Linked DNA regions of Homo sapiens. The protein of the gene in region 2 purifies or fractionates together with the protein of the main gene of each other region. This does not show direct contact. Each region holds a gene or a part of one and is shown on either strand. Other genes may lie near its edges.

The links. The genes of interacting proteins can lie anywhere in the genome.
Region 1: the proteins of IL36G (region 2) and GOT1 purify together in Homo sapiens (affinity purification with mass spectrometry; one large-scale study listed by BioGRID and IntAct). This does not show direct contact.

What each region holds. Positions count from the first base shown.
Region 1 is NC_000010.11:99,402,518-99,407,797, forward strand, and holds part of GOT1 (aspartate aminotransferase, cytoplasmic), read right to left. Parts: intron 4,333-5,280; coding exon 4,209-4,332; intron 3,733-4,208; coding exon 3,620-3,732; intron 3,344-3,619; coding exon 3,239-3,343; intron 1,358-3,238; coding exon 1,207-1,357; intron 1,118-1,206; coding exon 952-1,117; intron 206-951; coding exon 63-205; intron 1-62. UniProt on the Homo sapiens protein: Biosynthesis of L-glutamate from L-aspartate or L-cysteine. Important regulator of levels of glutamate, the major excitatory neurotransmitter of the vertebrate central nervous system. Acts as a scavenger of glutamate in brain neuroprotection.
Region 2 is NC_000002.12:112,979,723-112,984,078, reverse strand, and holds part of IL36G (interleukin-36 gamma), read right to left. Parts: intron 4,071-4,356; coding exon 3,931-4,070; intron 3,113-3,930; exon of another isoform or gene 2,536-3,112; intron 1-2,535. UniProt on the Homo sapiens protein: Cytokine that binds to and signals through the IL1RL2/IL-36R receptor which in turn activates NF-kappa-B and MAPK signaling pathways in target cells.

The sequences.
Region 1 (5,280 bases), on a different chromosome or scaffold from region 2:
ACTGAAAGGAATGTTGTGTGTCTACATGCACGCATGGGCTGGAGGTGGTGGGGGCCACTTACGGTTCAACCCAGTGAAGCTGAACATGCCAATTTGATCAGTGATGTGGTTCCAGGTCCCAGGGGTTTTGAGGGCTTCTAGTCGTGCCCTGAGTTCAGATCTCATGGTCAGAATCCGGTCAGCCATTGTCTTCACATTACCTGTCCTGAAGCATGGACAGTGACGTAAATACCAATCCAGACAGGAAAGATGGTACCCGAAAACACACAGGTTTAAAAACTCTAATTTAAACGACAGCTGACAATGGGATCATAACCTGCCTATTATGGCATGTGGATGTCTGGATGGGTGGATTAACATACCAGAGAGAGAGACTTAGGGGGCAGAAGGAAAGGACTGCATTTACTAGTGAGTCTAGTGCTAGTCTTGGGTATACTGGCTAGAATACACTCACATTTCAACTCAGGCTTCACCGAGGTGCTGCTATAGATATTAATAGGGCAATATGTTTCATCAGGACTTACTAAATAAAGATTGCAGATTTAGCTACTATATAAAAATTACTGTTCTAAAATAAGATAAAGTGTATGTAAATTACAGATAAAAACCAAGAGCTCCCAAACTGTTAAACTGCCTAGACGTTCGATATTCTATTTTGCTGGGAATACCTTCTTGGGTTTTCCAACTTCATGGAGAGGAAGACTGGGTGGGGGGGGAAATTGGGGAAAACTACCATTCATCGAGTGCCCCCTCCTGTCTTCCAGGTGTTGTGTTATGCACGTGTGAGGTAGATATCAGCCCCTGTTTTACAAATATCTGAGAGTCAAAGAAGTTAAAGTAATTTTATCCTGCTTCTGCCAAAATGAAAGGAAGAGACCCAGTTAAATGTACTGGGACAATTACTGTTCTGCACTCCCCACCCCCCGGCCCACCAGACTGGGAGCCCCTTACCATTCCTCAAAGAGCTCAGGGTTAGAGAGGGTGCTGGCCACAATTCGTGCTCCCTGGGCGGGGGGATTGGACCAAGTAATCCGCACGATCTTCTCCATCTGGGAAAGGACTTGCAGGATGCTCTCAGGTTCTTTTCCAACCACAGTCAGATTCCCGACTCTCTCATCTAAAGAGAGGGACCAGAATCAGCTGTGGCTGCTGAAGCAGGGAGTGATGCGAGGAGGTGGGGCTGTAACTCCTCAGGAGAGCACTCACTGTAGAGCCCGAAGTTCTTGGAGAAGGACTGGGCACAGAAGAACTCGAAGCCTTCAGACACAAAATAGCGAATGGCCCAGGCATCTCTCTCCAGGTTTCCAGATGCGAAGCCCTGATAGGCTGAGTCAAAGAAGGGGAACAGAAACCGGTGCTGCGGGGAAGCAAAGTGAGTCAGGGCAGGAAATCCTTCTGGCACCAACCTCAGACACCGGCCTTCCTTCCCCAGCTGATGCCTGGAGGGAATTTCAAATGCTGTCCATTTCTCCTATTTCTTGACTATATGCACCCAAGCTCCACTTTACATCCATTTCTCTCTACAACCAACAAGTGTAACCTTTTCCGTAAACTTTACTTTTTAAAAGTAAATTGTCCTAGAGTGTCCCAATTCAGCTTAGAGAAACAGGGCTTACTTTTGATGCAAGGAGACAATGTCCTACATTGTGGATTTTCCTCTGTGAATTTCTGGCGTGAGAGCCTTAGTCAAGTGTAGGCTTGGTATCCCCAGGGCTCCTCATGGGCTATTCTGCTAGGTACTCAAGAGGAAGGGAACAGAGTAGCCTCCATTCCTGTCACTCATCTCCTCAAAGAGCTCTCCACAGGGAACCTGCTTCTACAGCTGTGCTCTCTGAGTGGACACCACTTCCCTCCCCGGAACTGTCCAAATCTTTGGTTGTACTTTGATTCCCATCTCTTAGGTTTATCTTGACTAGGTGGGACTGGGGGGAATCTGGACTCCTAACTCTGCAGCTCATCCCCCACATCCTGGCACTCCCCAAGTCTCATCAGTCCTGTCTCTTCAGAGCTCCCAAATCCTTTTGCATCTCACTGTCCCCACTGCTACCTACTTCATCCAGGTCACCATCAACTCCTACCTGGGCTATGGCAATGGTCTCCTAACTGCTCCCACGGCCTGTCTAGTCTTGCCTCTCTCTGACCCATTCCCTGCTATGACATCAGGGTGGCCTTAAGACCATGCACATCCAATCATGTCACTCCCCGACATCCAAGATTTCAGTGGCTCCGCACTGCCCTGAGAATAAAGTCCAAGCCTCAGCACAGACCCTGCCCCTATTCACTCTAGCCTCATCACTCACACTCCCCATGATGTCTGCCTGGGGCTTCTGACCATGCTCCGTCCTCTGCAGAGCACATCCCTTCCCTGTCAACCCCTGTCTGCTGATGCCTTCTTAGCTCCTCCCCATCCTACAGGACTCAACATAGAAACCACTGCTTCCAGGAAGGTTCCTGCCACCAACCCGCCAACTCCCACATATACACTGCCCAAAGTCTGGGCTATGTACCCCCCTATAACACTGTCAACACAGCTATCTCACAGCATCACAGCTGCCTTAGTACTCGTCCATCTCCCCAAACAGGCTGTCTGTCTTTGAGGGTAGGGACTGCATCTGCTCCATTCAATAGTGTATTCCCACAGTGTCCAATACACAGCAGTTCCTTAATAAGTATTCTACAAACTCGTTAAGGAAGAATATACACACTTTCAGCTAGGAATTCCCACCTAGAAAGTTACGCCAAAGAAATAATAAAAGGAAATTTTGTTACATAATTTTTCATCAGATCAAGCAATCTGAAGTAAACCTAAATATTCATCAGATGATTTACCCCATCCCTAATATGACATATCCATGAAAGAAATATAATATAGCTATGAAAAATGATGCTGCAAAATATTCAATGACATGTATATAAAGAAGTGAAAATGAAAAACAAATTGTGTTGCACAAAACAGTACAGACAAAATGATCTCATCTTTGTAAAACATATACATAAAACTAGACACACACACACACACACACACACACACACACACACACAGTCTGACATTCTATCTACCAAAACATTAACAGTATCTTTCTTTAGGTAATAAAATTTACAGTTAATACTTATTTTCTTCTTTGGACTTTTCTCCATTTTCCTAATTCCTCAGCAAACAGCAAACAGGTATTGCTTCTACATACATTAAATAAGAATATATACTATTTTTTAAGAGATGCTCTGAAGGGGCAGTTACCTTCATGACAGAAGCAATCTGCTTCCACTGCTCCGGAGTTGGGTCAATCCCAGTTGGGTTGTGTGCACAGGCGTGGAGGACAACAATGGAGAACTCAGGAGCATTCTGAGGAGAAGGAAGCTATGTCAGCTCTGACACTGATGGGAATATTGGGAGACAGAGTCAGCAGCAGATTGGTCAGTGATGGAGGGCAAAGGGCAACCATATTCTTGTCACTCTTTCATGTCTCTTTTGTGCCCTCTCTCTTACATGCTATGTCAGAAACCACCATCAGGTATGGGGAAGGTGTCTCAGACTCCTTCACTTAGCAACTGGTCCAAAGACTTTGCCTGAGATTCCTGACACCATGCAATTCTCTACTTTTTCCTCTAAATCACCCACCTCCAGATCATTCAGGAAGCCCTGGAGGTCCAATCCTCTCTTCTCTGCATCCCAGTAGCGATAGGACCGAATGTCTTTAAAACCAGCAGCGGAAAACACAGCATTGTGATTCTCTGCATGCAAAGAAGTAAAAAGTTAAGCACTTTACAAACACTAGGAGGCATGAGTGGAAAGGATGCAAGTCAGCTTCCAGGGCCCTCCCAGGCTCAATGTCCACTGGGCATCATCCAGGCTGGGGGTTAAGATGTAGAGGAATGATTGTAACCAAGAACAAGTTCAACCAGTCACATTAATGCCAGACTTATATTCTACTACAATGATACTTCCTGCATCTACATTCTATGCCTCCTCTGGGGAGTTTCAACATAGCCTTGGTAGATACAAGTCTACTAAGAGTCTTGAGAAAGAGTATTCTTAACTTGATTTTGAGCAGCAGGTTTCTCATGCACTGCCATAACCCACTGTTCAAGCCATTCCCAACAGTCAGTTGTTCTAGGGCTGGATTACATTTTCTGTGTAACCAGGGAGAGTCATGAGGATAATTCTCTCTGGTTTCTGTTTTTCCTCTCACTTCAGCTGAAAGACTCACCCCAGGTTGGTGAGGACACATAGACAGGTGTGTTCTTGTTGTTTGTTCCATTGTACCAACGCGCTAAGAAATCAGCTCCAATTCGAAGTGCACCTGTTCCCCCCAAAGATTGCACACCTCCTACCTGAAAGAGAAGAAACAGGGTCACAGGCTGATAATGGTGAGGTCAGATAATATTTACAAAAATAAGGTAATAATGAGCACTTACTCTATGCCTGCTCTGTGCTAAGGCTTTTAATTGTATTATCTCATCAAAACCTTACAACTACTACATGAAAAAGGTACTATGATTTGCCCATGTTTACAACTGAGGAAACTGAGGCTGAGAGAGGTGAAGAACCTTGCTCAAAGTTACCAGCTACTGAGCAGGAGTGCCAGTCTTCAACCCAGGAGGTCTGACACTAGAAGAAGCTTCCCTTCTGAACACAGAGGTAGAGGACACACCGAGGCCACATTAGTGTGTGTGTGTGTGTGTGTGTGCATGCACGCACATGCCTTGGAAGGCAAACCCATCTCTTCAGCACCCATCCTAAGATCAAACTTACCCTCTAGCATAAGCCTCTAAAACAGTGTTCCTAACTTGTCATTGACATCAATCTGTGCTACTCCTCATCTCTAGAATTCAGGCTTATTAATCCTTAGAAGTATGTTCTAACAAAACAGAGGTGATGCATGAGTACTACTTTCTTCTCCTTGGCTTCCTCTCATTTTTTTTTTTTTTCTTTTTGAGACAGTCTCATTCTGTCACCTAGGTTGGAGTGCAGTGGCATGGTCTCAGCTAACTGCAACTTCCGCCTCCCAGGTTCAAGTGATTCTCCTGCCTCAGCCTCCCGAGTAGCTGGGACTACAGGCGCCTGCCACCATGCCCGGCTAATTTTTTGTATATTTAGTAGAGACGGGGTTTCACCATTTTGGCCAGGTTGGTCTCGAACTCCTGACCTTGTGATCTGCCTGCCTTGGCCTCTCAAACTGCTGGGATTACAGGTGTGAGCCACTGCGCCTGGCTGGCTTCCTCTCATCCTAAAGTGACCTAACATAGGCAATAATAAAAGCCATATTTTATTTATTTATT
Region 2 (4,356 bases):
TTCTTTGGGTGGCCAGAAACCTAGGAGTCATTATTGACATTTCTTTTTTTGATCCCCTAACATCTAACCCAGGAGCAAGGCCTGTGGACTCTATTTCCAAAATACCAAAATATTTCCTGAATCGAGTCACTTCTTGCACTCCACACATGGCATCAACCCCAATCCAGGCCATCACTCTCTCACCTGGACAATTAGGGTGACCTTCTAAATGTTCTCCTTGAACCTACTCTATTCTCTAATAATCATTCTCCATAAGGCAGGTAAGTGAACTTTAAACTGAAGTAAATAAATAAGATTATGATACCCTTTTGCATGATTTTCTATTGTTATTACAGTGAAACTCCTCGGCAAAGCCCACAGGGTCTACGCCACCCAGCTCCTGCCTACCTGCTGCCCTGCCTTCTTACCACTCTCCTGCATGCTCATTCTGCCCCCACCAACCTGTCTTCTTCTTTGCCTTCCAAGACACCAAGCTGTTCCCACCCAAGGTCCTGGCACTTACTCTCCCTGCACCTCACACCAGCCCCACATCTTCCCAAGGCCAGCTGCTCCCCATCACCTGGGTCTCCTCCTTGGGGAGAACTTTACTGAACATTCCATCCCAGCCAAAATCGGTTTGGAATCCTCCCTCCTACTCATTGCGATCATATTCCTGAGTTATTTTCTTCATTAGTACCAACTGCTATCTAAACTTAGCGTATTTATTCATCAATCCCAGAATGATTGTTAGACTTGTTCATCACTGTATTCCTCAACACAGAGGAAAGCCCCCAGCATTCTACTCAACAGAGATTTGCTGTTTAATAAATGGAAGAATGCTTCCTCCTTTGAAACTCCCATACCTCCTCCATCATCACCTTCAACTTCCTACCCACTGAGAAAATTGAAGTAATTAGAAGACAACTTGTACAAACCACACCATAACATGGGCTCCCAGCACATGGCACCCATATCTGCACCTCCCTGCTTGAGGAGGACTGGGTGAAAGGTCCTATCTGCACTTGCAACTTAAGGACATCCCTCTAGCCGTTCTCCCTGCTCTCTTGTGCTCCATCAATTTTGCTTGCTCTTCTTAGTCATTCCCATCAGCATATTTGCTGTCATTTCTACCATCTTAAACAAAATAACTACTTTGCTTACCCACCACCGCCACCAGTTCCACTTTGCAGAAAACTTCCTGCAATCGCTGTCCATATCTGCTGTCTCTGATCCCTTTCTTGTAATTCCTCCCTTTAAACTTACTCCATCCAGGCTTTTGCCCCCACTACAGCACCAACACTGCTCCTGCCAAGGTCCCCAAAGACCCACACATTGCCAAACGCAACAGTCAATTCTTAGTCCCCATCTGAGAACAAACGCACAACATAAGGGTGACTTAGCTGACAGGACAAAGTAGCAAATGTCATTCTCAGTCCTGACTTTATTGATCACACTCACAATCCTGTTTCCTCCACTTAAAATACTACCAGAATCTGACTCACTGCTCCCCACCTCTGCTGCTATCTCCTGGCCCATCAAATCACACCTAGACCACCTCAAAGTCTCCTGAAGGACTTTCACCTTTGCCCGCCACAGTCTAAGATCTCCAGAGAGATCCTTTTTAGACCTAAGCCCCTTCACGCCATTCCTCTGTTCAAAACATTCTAATATTTCCCATTTCACTCAGATTGCAAGGCTGAGTCCTTGCAAAGGACAAGACTTTCATGTCTGCCTTTATCTCTCTGGACTCATTCCTCAATTCACTCCTGCACACCGGTCCTCACTGGTCCTGGGACGTGCCCTCACTAGACACCTGCTAACTAACTTCCCTAGCTCTTTCTACTCCCTGCTAACATCTCACCTAGGCAATGATGCCTATTGCACTATTCACCACTGCAGCCTGACGCCGCCTGTGTTCCTGGTACTGCTGGTCTATCTATCCTGCTGTAACCATTTTTATTTTTCTAGGAGAGGTAAAGACCTCTAACATAGCACAAATTTGCCTACTATTACATTTATTGTTTGCCATTTCTCTCCTTTCACTAGAATCCAAGCCCCACATGGTCAGGGTTCTTTGCCATTCTGTGCACAGCTATATCTCAAGCATCTACGCAGTGCTAGAGGCCAGGAAGTACCCATACATGCGCTTAATTGAATTGGATTGAGTTGAATCAAACTGAATTAAACTGAAGTTTGTGGAACGAGGACAAACAGTCATTAAAAAATAAAAAAAGAACAAACCAGAGAGCTTGGGAATTAAAAGAGTAAAGATTGAAATTTCAGGAAATGCTATAAAAGGATGATTTCCAGAAGGGACAACACTGAAAATGTAACCATGAGCTGGCAGAGCAAAGCAAGAAATTCTTCCAGATGCAACACCAAAATTTTAAAAAGCAATGAAGGGATAGAAAGTATAAAAAATTAGATGAGATATCGTGAGATATTGAAGTGAGATTCATAACTTCCAACGATGGATGAATAGGAATTCCAAAAGGAAAATAAGGGTGAGAATATACTTGAAGAAATGATGGCCAAGAATATATCAAAGGTTAAGAAAGACAGAGCAGTGTGAAGAAGAGGCAAGAACAGCCCCCAGACTGACCAAAACCCGCACAATGCTGCATCCTGCATCCAGTGCCTATATCCCGCTGGGGTGGCCACCACCATGCCCAGGAGAAAGGCTGAAGGGGATGCTGAAGGAGATAAGCCAAGGTGAAGGACGAACCACAGAGAAGGCCCGCAAAGTTGTCTGCTAAACCTGCTCCTCCAAATCCAGAGGCCAAGCCTAAAAATGCCCCTGCAAAGAAGGGAGAGAAGGTACCCAAAGGGAAAAAGGGAAAAGCTGATGCTGGCAAGGAGGGGAATAACTCTGCAGAAAATAGAGATGCCAAAACAGGGAAGGCACAGAAAGCTGAAGGTGCTGCAGATGCCAAGTGTAGTGTGTGCATTTTTGATAACTGTGTACTTCTGGTGACTGTACAGTTTGAAAAACTATTTTTTATCAAGTTTTATAAAAATGCAGAATTTTGTTTTACTTTTCTTTTTAAGCTATGTTGTTAGCACCCAGAACACTTCATTGTTGTTTTTAGGGGAAGGGGCATATGTCACTAATAGAATGTCTCCAAAGCTGGATCGATGTGGGGAAAACACCTTTCCCTTCTAGTTTTGAGAGAGTTCCTCTTGGCTCCCAGGAGGAGGGATTCTCTGACTTTGACACACATGGCCACCTTGGCAGAAAAGCCTTGTGGTATGGAAAATAAATTCATTTTTATGTCCTCTTCTCCCTTTCCATCTTTCAGCATAGATTTAACTCCTTTAAGCCAGACATCTGTTGGGACCTGGCCCTCAATCATTGGTTACCAGTATGTCAGGCACTCTGGACTTTCCAGTGATGCCACTGAGATGGCACCTGTCAAAAGAGCAGTGGTTCTGTTTCTAGATCGTGGATCTTCAGATAAATTCTACCATTTTCATTTCACTTCCTGAAAGTCAGGGTTGGCTTGTGAAAAGTTTAAACCACATGCTAAATGTGAAATGTCAACTCTCACTCTAAACTCTCCCTGTTCAGAGCATCAGATGAAGACTTCATTGAGTTTTATAGTGGCTTTCTGATTTTTGGTAGTCCTTTGAACAAGGGAGTTTGAAGTTTGCTGCATACTCTTAACAATTGTCTGCCCATATCCTGCCTGAAATACCATGAATGTTTATGGAAAGTATCTTTAATAAAGCTGGATGCAGTTTGGCTTGGAAAAAAAAAAAGCAAAACAAGGACCTTAACTACTGACAGCCAGAATAAAAAGAAAAGTGTATTGCATGCACATAACTTAAAAGAGGCTGGGAATAAATATGCTTAGGAAGATGAGACTATTTCTTTTTTAATTCTAAAATTAGGTATTCAACCAAACACTTCTAAAAGGAAAGGCTTTTTAAATATTTTTCTTAGCTACTCACTTTTAGCTGCAATGTGGGCTGTTCTCCAACCTTCTCACAATACAAACACATTTCTGGATTCTGGATTCCCAAATAAATGGGATCCCCTCTGCCTTGCTCAAGAGCCTCTGGATACTTGCATGTGATAACAGCAACAGTGACTGTAAAGATAAGAGGAGAGATGGTATCAGTTTCCTTTTGAAGTCAGAAAGATTATTTGATTTAGCAGGGCAGTATCCTCAAGTGGATCTGGAAGAGAGCTGAAGAGTGTAATCCCAACTAGACCCACCAAATGGCCAACCCCCATATTCATTCATTCATTCATTCATTCATACCATGTGCCAATCACTGCCCTAGTAAATGAGCAAACACAGAGAGCTAAGCAGACAACAGAGTATGCTCTTGAGATTCTCACGCCTCTGCTTGAGCACATGGAGATGGGGAGCT